Linked DNA regions of Homo sapiens: region 2 is linked to region 1. Evidence: fine-mapped expression QTL. A gene starts in region 1. The other region holds a variant in brackets. All regions are shown on one strand. Distances are from middle to middle.

Region 1 (2,918 bases):
CCTTGGACATATTATTCTGAGCCATCTCCTATTTTCTTTCATATGTAAATGTTATTCTTGAGCTAGGAATAGGAGAGAAAGAGAAAATTGAAACAGCCAGACCAAGTGTTTTTGAATGCTCTTAAAAGACAAAAAAAAAAAAAAAGACAAAAGTTTGTATCACATCAGAAGTTCCCTACGTGCTCTTCAAAGCTGATTGCTTGCAGTTAAAAGAACCCAGAAGAAGCAGGCACGCCATGATTTTGAAGCTCCGTTTTTGTTCTGTTATTCAACTGCAGTCAACTTCCAACTGTTGAAAAAAAGATGATTTAGAATTAAAGGGTTGCTTGTCTGTGTCGCAAGGCCCTTCAACTTGTTCACCTGTGATATCCAGAGACTCCAAGATGTTGGTGAGTTTCTATTGCAATTGCCATATTGCCATGGTTTTGCCCTTTGTGTTGACTGTAGCATTGTGCTGTTTGAAGACAGAGCAGCATACTGCTTTGTGTAGTAAAAATTGATGGATAATGTACTTAAAGCTTTTAGATGTACACTATTCACATTCTAAATGACAGATACAAAAAGGAATAATCAGAATTTAGATTGTTGAATCATTGCCTCCAACAGCCAACTCTTACCGTGACAAAGTCAGTAGGGCTGATCTTAGAAGTGTAGGACTTGTGAGTGTTACGTGGTTGTACTAACTGGTACCTTAGTGGAGGGGCAGATAAGGTAAGTAGAAACAATGCCTGCTTTCTCCTCCATGTCTGGGTCCTACACATAGTCCCCAGTTTGCCTGGTTTGTAGAGGTTTAAACACAGAACAGAGGGTGTTGGGAATGAGACAAAGAGATTGTCACAGGAACATGGACCCACGGTTTTCCTTTGGTGATGAAAACAATCCTGTCAATATGGAAAACTGTGTTATCACAAAATGGGCTTAGCGAATAGAAGAAATGTCACCTACCAGCCGGAAACAACAATTCGCTGACCATCTTTGGCCTCTTGCCACTAAGGAGTTTTGGTTTTCCCATCTGTAGAAATTCTTAATTGAGTCCATCAGATTCCCAGTCATCCTAGCCATGGTTACCTTCTTCTCTAAGTTGGCAGGTTAGTGAGCTTAGGCTAGCACTTCAGCATCAAATTTAGACTTCATAATAAAGTAAATCACACAGGGAATAGCTGTCAGCATGGTGACCACCTTGTTGTCCATTCCTACTCAGGGACTGGCCTGAAGTGTTTTCACAGCCTGGGTCACTGTGATGTCCTGGCCCTGTTTGCTCAAAGTGTTCATCTCAGAGTGACTTGTGAGGTATTGCTGAGCACATAATGGTCAAGATAGCTGCATAAGCAGGCGTGGCCCCAAATGTAGTCACCTGACTTCAGAAAATCAATTTGGATTCTACAGAAAGGTTCTGTTGGATTCTGAGTGGAACCTCTTTGGATATGCCTTTGGATTTCAAGATTGAGCCAAGTGTTGACATGGGAAGATGCTCCAGTTCCTCCAGTTATCTCAAAGAAGCTCATTACCTTGCTAAGGGTATGGATTGTCCTTTTCCAGAAAAAATCCTCTTGATATTTTGCATGCACACATGCAAAAAATAATAACAACAGAAGCTGTTTTCCTGTATGTAATGAGAGTGTTCCTCAGGTTTCTGGTTTATCTTAATGGTATCTCACTCCTTTTCTTTTCCTTTCTTTCTTTCTTTGTCTGTGTGTGTGTTTGTGTGTGTGTGTTTATGTGTGTGTGAGAGAGAGAGAGAGAGACAGGGTCTTGCTCTGTCACCCAGGCTGGAGTGCAGTGGCATGATCTCTGCTCACTGCAGCCTTGACCTCCTGGGCTCAACTGATCCTCCATCTCAGCCTCCCAAGTTGCTGGGACTACAGGCATATACCACCACTGCTGGCTAATTTTTAATTTTTTTTTTCTTTGTAGAGACAGGGTCTTGCTTTGTTGCCCAAGCTGTTCTCAAACTCCTGTCCTCAAGGAATCCTTCTGTTTTGGCATCCCAAAGTGCTGAGATTACAGGCATGAGCCACTGTGCCTGGACTTTTTTTCTTTTTCTTGAGAGCCAGAGCAAAATTCAAATTTTATCAGTTTTAATTAATTATATTTTAAAAGTGGGAATTTGGCCAACAAAGTATCTTTCCTTTCTATACAAGAAGGGTATGGCGTTTGGCAATGAGCTCCTGAAAATGTAAAGAAAGCATGAGGATAACTTTGGGACTGATACTTGGGTCATTAAAAGTCTTGCAAAACTAGAATTTGTTTTCTTCTTCTTCCATTCTCTCTGTAGGCATTTAAACATACTCTCAGGCCAGGCACAGTGGCTCATGTCTGTAATCCCAGCACTTTGGGAGGCTGAGGCAGGTGGATTACTTGTGCTCAGGAGTTCGAGACCGTCCTGAATAACATGGTGAAACTCCATCTCTAAAAAAAAAATTAAAAATTAGTCAGGTGTGGTGGTGTGCGCCTGTAGTCCCAGCTACTCAGGAGGCTAAGGGAGGAAGATCAGTTGAGCCATGGTGTTGTCACTACACTCCAGCCTGGGTGATAGAGTGAGACCTTGTCTAAAAAAAAAAAAAAAAAGATACTCTGTTTTTTTTTGTTCTAAAAAATTAGACAATATTTTGTTTAAACTTGCTTAGTGATTTATTTATTTATTTATTATTTTTTATTTTTTTGAGACAGAGTCTTGCTGTTGCTCAGGCTGGAGTACAGCGGCATGATCTCGGCTCACTGCAACCTCTGCCTCCCGGGTTCAAGTGATTCTCCTGCCTCAGCCTCCCAAGTAGCTGGGACTATAGGGATGCACCACCATGCCCAACTAATTTTTGTATTTTTAGTAGAAATGGGTTTTGCCACATTGGCCAGGCTGGTCTTGAACTACTGAGCTCAAGTGATCCACCTGCCTCAGCCTCCCAAAGTGCTGGGATTAC
Region 2 (2,918 bases), 26 kb after region 1:
AAGCATACTGGCCGGGTGCAGTGGCTCGCGCCTGTAATCCCAGCACTTTGGTAGGCCAAGGCGGGTGGATCACTTGAGGTCAGGAGTTCGAGACCAGCCTGACCAACATGGTGAAACTCTGTTTCTACTAAGACATACCAAAATTAGCTGGGTGGGGTGGTGTGTTCCTGTAGTCCCAGCTACTTGGAAGGGAGGCTGAGGTGGGAGAATCACTTGAAATTGGGAGGGAGGTGGAGGTTGCAGTGAGCCAAGATTGCGCCACTGCACTCCAGCCTGGGCAACACAGAGAAACTCCATCTCAAAAAAAAAAAAAAAAAAAAAAGAACACAGCATACCAGTCAGATAGGTAAAAGTTAAAATCCCAGCTTTCCCACTTACTCATGATGCAACCTTGCCAAATTGCTTAAATCCGCCAGGCCTCAGATCACTCACCATTAAAATGGCGACAACGTGCCAGGATGGTTGGAAGTATTAAGGAGACTATAAGGGAAGCACCTGGCACATCATGAACAACTAGCAAATGGTAACAGGAAAACACTGAAACCCTCCAAGAAAATTAATGGACAAAGGACATGAGCTAAAAAGTCACAAGTAAGGCCGGGCGCAGTGGCTCACACAATTACTCACAATTAAAGTAATCCCAGTACTTTGGGAGGCCGAGGTGGGCGAATCATGAGGTCAGGAGCTCAAGACCAGCCCGGCCAACATGGTGAAACTGTCTCCACTAAAAATACAAAAAATTAGCTGGGGGTAGTGGTGGGCACCTGTAATCCCAGCTACTTGGGGGGCTGAGCCAGAAGAATTGCTTGAACCCGGGAGCTGAGATTAGGCCACTGCACTCCAGCCTGGGCAACAGAGTGAGACTCCGTCTCAAAAAAAAAAAAAAAAGTCACAGGTAGGAAATACAACCAATAAATCAGCATATAGGAACAGACTTATTTCCTTTAGTCACAGAGGAAATGCAAATTAACACAAAAGGTGACACACCCCTCCCTTCAATTAACAGAAACATTTTCAAGTGATAATTCCTGATGCAGAGGAAGGTGTGGTCAAACTGAGCCGTCCACACTGTTGGTGGCTGTGAAATCTGTACAACTTTTGTGGAAAGCAATTTGGCAATATGGGTCATCACACAAACATGTTCGCAACCTTTGGCCCAGACATTTCCTCAGGAAGTAATCCAAGATGTGGAAAAAGCTATGTGTACAATGATGCTTCTGCCATTGTTTATAATGATGGGAAAAGTACATTTATTTTTTACTTACATAAAGGGTAAGACCTTAGTCAAAAATACACAGTGGGTGGTAACAGCCCTCACAGGTCAGTGGAGTAATTGTTTTGTGTTAAAGAGGGACATATAACCAATCATTTAGGCCCCCAGACAGTCCCTAAACCCTGTTTTAATTCATAGTTGAATATATTTATTTAGAAAGGCTTTTAGAGCTCTACTAGCCAGCGGTCAGATTAATAGATCTAAAAATTATGTTCCTAAATCTGTTCATTATCTGGCGAAGCTTGGAGTAATTTGAAACTAAGGGAAAGATAAAAAGGGGAGAGTATTCTGTCATCTGTACACCAGATTTTAAAATCTGTTTAGAGGAGGAAGGAAGCAAGCCAGGGT[G/A]GAAACTTCCATTCTTCAGCCCAGGCCATTAGAGGCGCAGCCCCGACTGAGTGACACATCAGAACTAAGGATGGGCTCTTTCTTCTTTCCCTCCTGTCCCCCTGCGCCTCCCTTTCCCCAACTGGAGGAGAGGTTTGGCGAGTCTCTCTGCCTGAGGTGGCAAGTTCAGCCGGACCTCAGCTGCTTGCTGGGCTGTGCGTGTGCAGCCGCGGCGTGAGTCACATCCTCTATCACATCTCCATCTGTGTGCTTTGTGGCGCAGGAGGATCCCAACGGCACTCCAAGAAGGCAGGATTGTGCAGAGATGACGGCACCCAGTCCGAGCTGTGCCTTCTGTCGCAGGCTCCTTGAATGGTGAGGGCTTCTTGTGGCTACATTCCCAGGGTGGATTGGAGTCAGTCCTGGCATAGTAACTCCAGTGAGAGTGGGCGGCAACTAACTGAGGCCACTGGCTGAGTTATAGAGTCACAGATCTCAGGCCTGGGCACAGAGCCCAGCCTCCCTCGCACCCTACAGATCCTCTAGCAGTGGTCCTCAACTGGGGAGACCATCAAAATCACCATGGGAGATTTTACAATCATGCACATGCCTCCATCCCACCTACTGTCTCAGCATCGCCAGCGGTGGGGCTCTGGTAGGAATATTGCTTTTAAATCTCCCCAGGTGATTCCGATAAGCCCCCTTGGTTAAGAATCATGGTTACAGCCCACGGAGGGTGGTCCTGTAGGCTTTTGATCATTGCCCACATGGGGGATTCTTATCCTGTATAACAAACAGCTCCCACCATCCCTACTCTCTCCTTATGATGAGCAAAAGTCTTCTCTGTTGGGTTTCACCTGAGCCCCCCAGTCCCAGGAACAAGCCTCATCCCTCTTCTCAGGGCTGATTTCTTCCCATTCCTAAGGACGAAATCTTCCAGAGCTAACAAGCTGTAAATCATGTAAAATCCTCAGGAGAAATCCTTTGTTTTTGAAACACCCATTGGTGCAACTATTAATCTGTGTCGATTCAGTATCATTTATTTGAAGCTTCTTTCAGGTAGCGAGAGATGTTACCTCTAAGCTCACTGTGGACTCCGGCCAAAGCTCGGCTCATTGACCTTTGGAAGGTCAAGAGTCAGGGAGGCAGCAGGTGTTTAGCAACCACTGTTATATGTACGTAATGGATTCTAATAGAAGCAGATGACAGGGTCTGAAAGACTGAGGCTTCCTGTTAGAAAGCATTCCATTGTGGGAATGGGCACCTGCCTTAAGAGTTCTAATGAGTGTCCACCCCTGAAAAAAGAAACTGCATGAAG

Which allele goes with the higher level. Positions count from the first base shown, and alleles are read on the strand shown. Sizes are in standard deviations (SD) of each study's normalised expression.
As copies of A replace G in region 2, the expression in sigmoid colon of the gene that starts at base 1,353 in region 1 goes down (large effect, 0.78 SD a copy in GTEx).

The links.
Region 2: its variant is fine-mapped to the expression of AKNAD1 in sigmoid colon (GTEx, PIP above 0.99).

Annotation. Positions count from the first base shown.
Region 1 is chr1:108,855,529-108,858,446 of GRCh38, reverse strand. AKNAD1 (AKNA domain containing 1) reads left to right here and starts at 1,353. Exons shown (of 16, transcript NM_152763.5): 1 at 1,353-1,518. It overlaps SPATA42 (spermatogenesis associated 42), which reads right to left and starts at 1,230. Exons shown (of 3, transcript NR_034168.1): 1 at 946-1,230; 2 at 180-289; 3 at 1-62.
Region 2 is chr1:108,829,616-108,832,533 of GRCh38, reverse strand. AKNAD1 (AKNA domain containing 1) reads left to right here. Exons shown (of 16, transcript NM_152763.5): 10 at 1,884-1,975. All of the region lies in intron 2 of LOC105378891 (a long non-coding RNA gene), which reads right to left. Among named protein-coding and RNA genes, the nearest start is that of AKNAD1, 26 kb to the left of the region's middle. The variant G/A (reference allele first, on the strand shown) is at 1,622.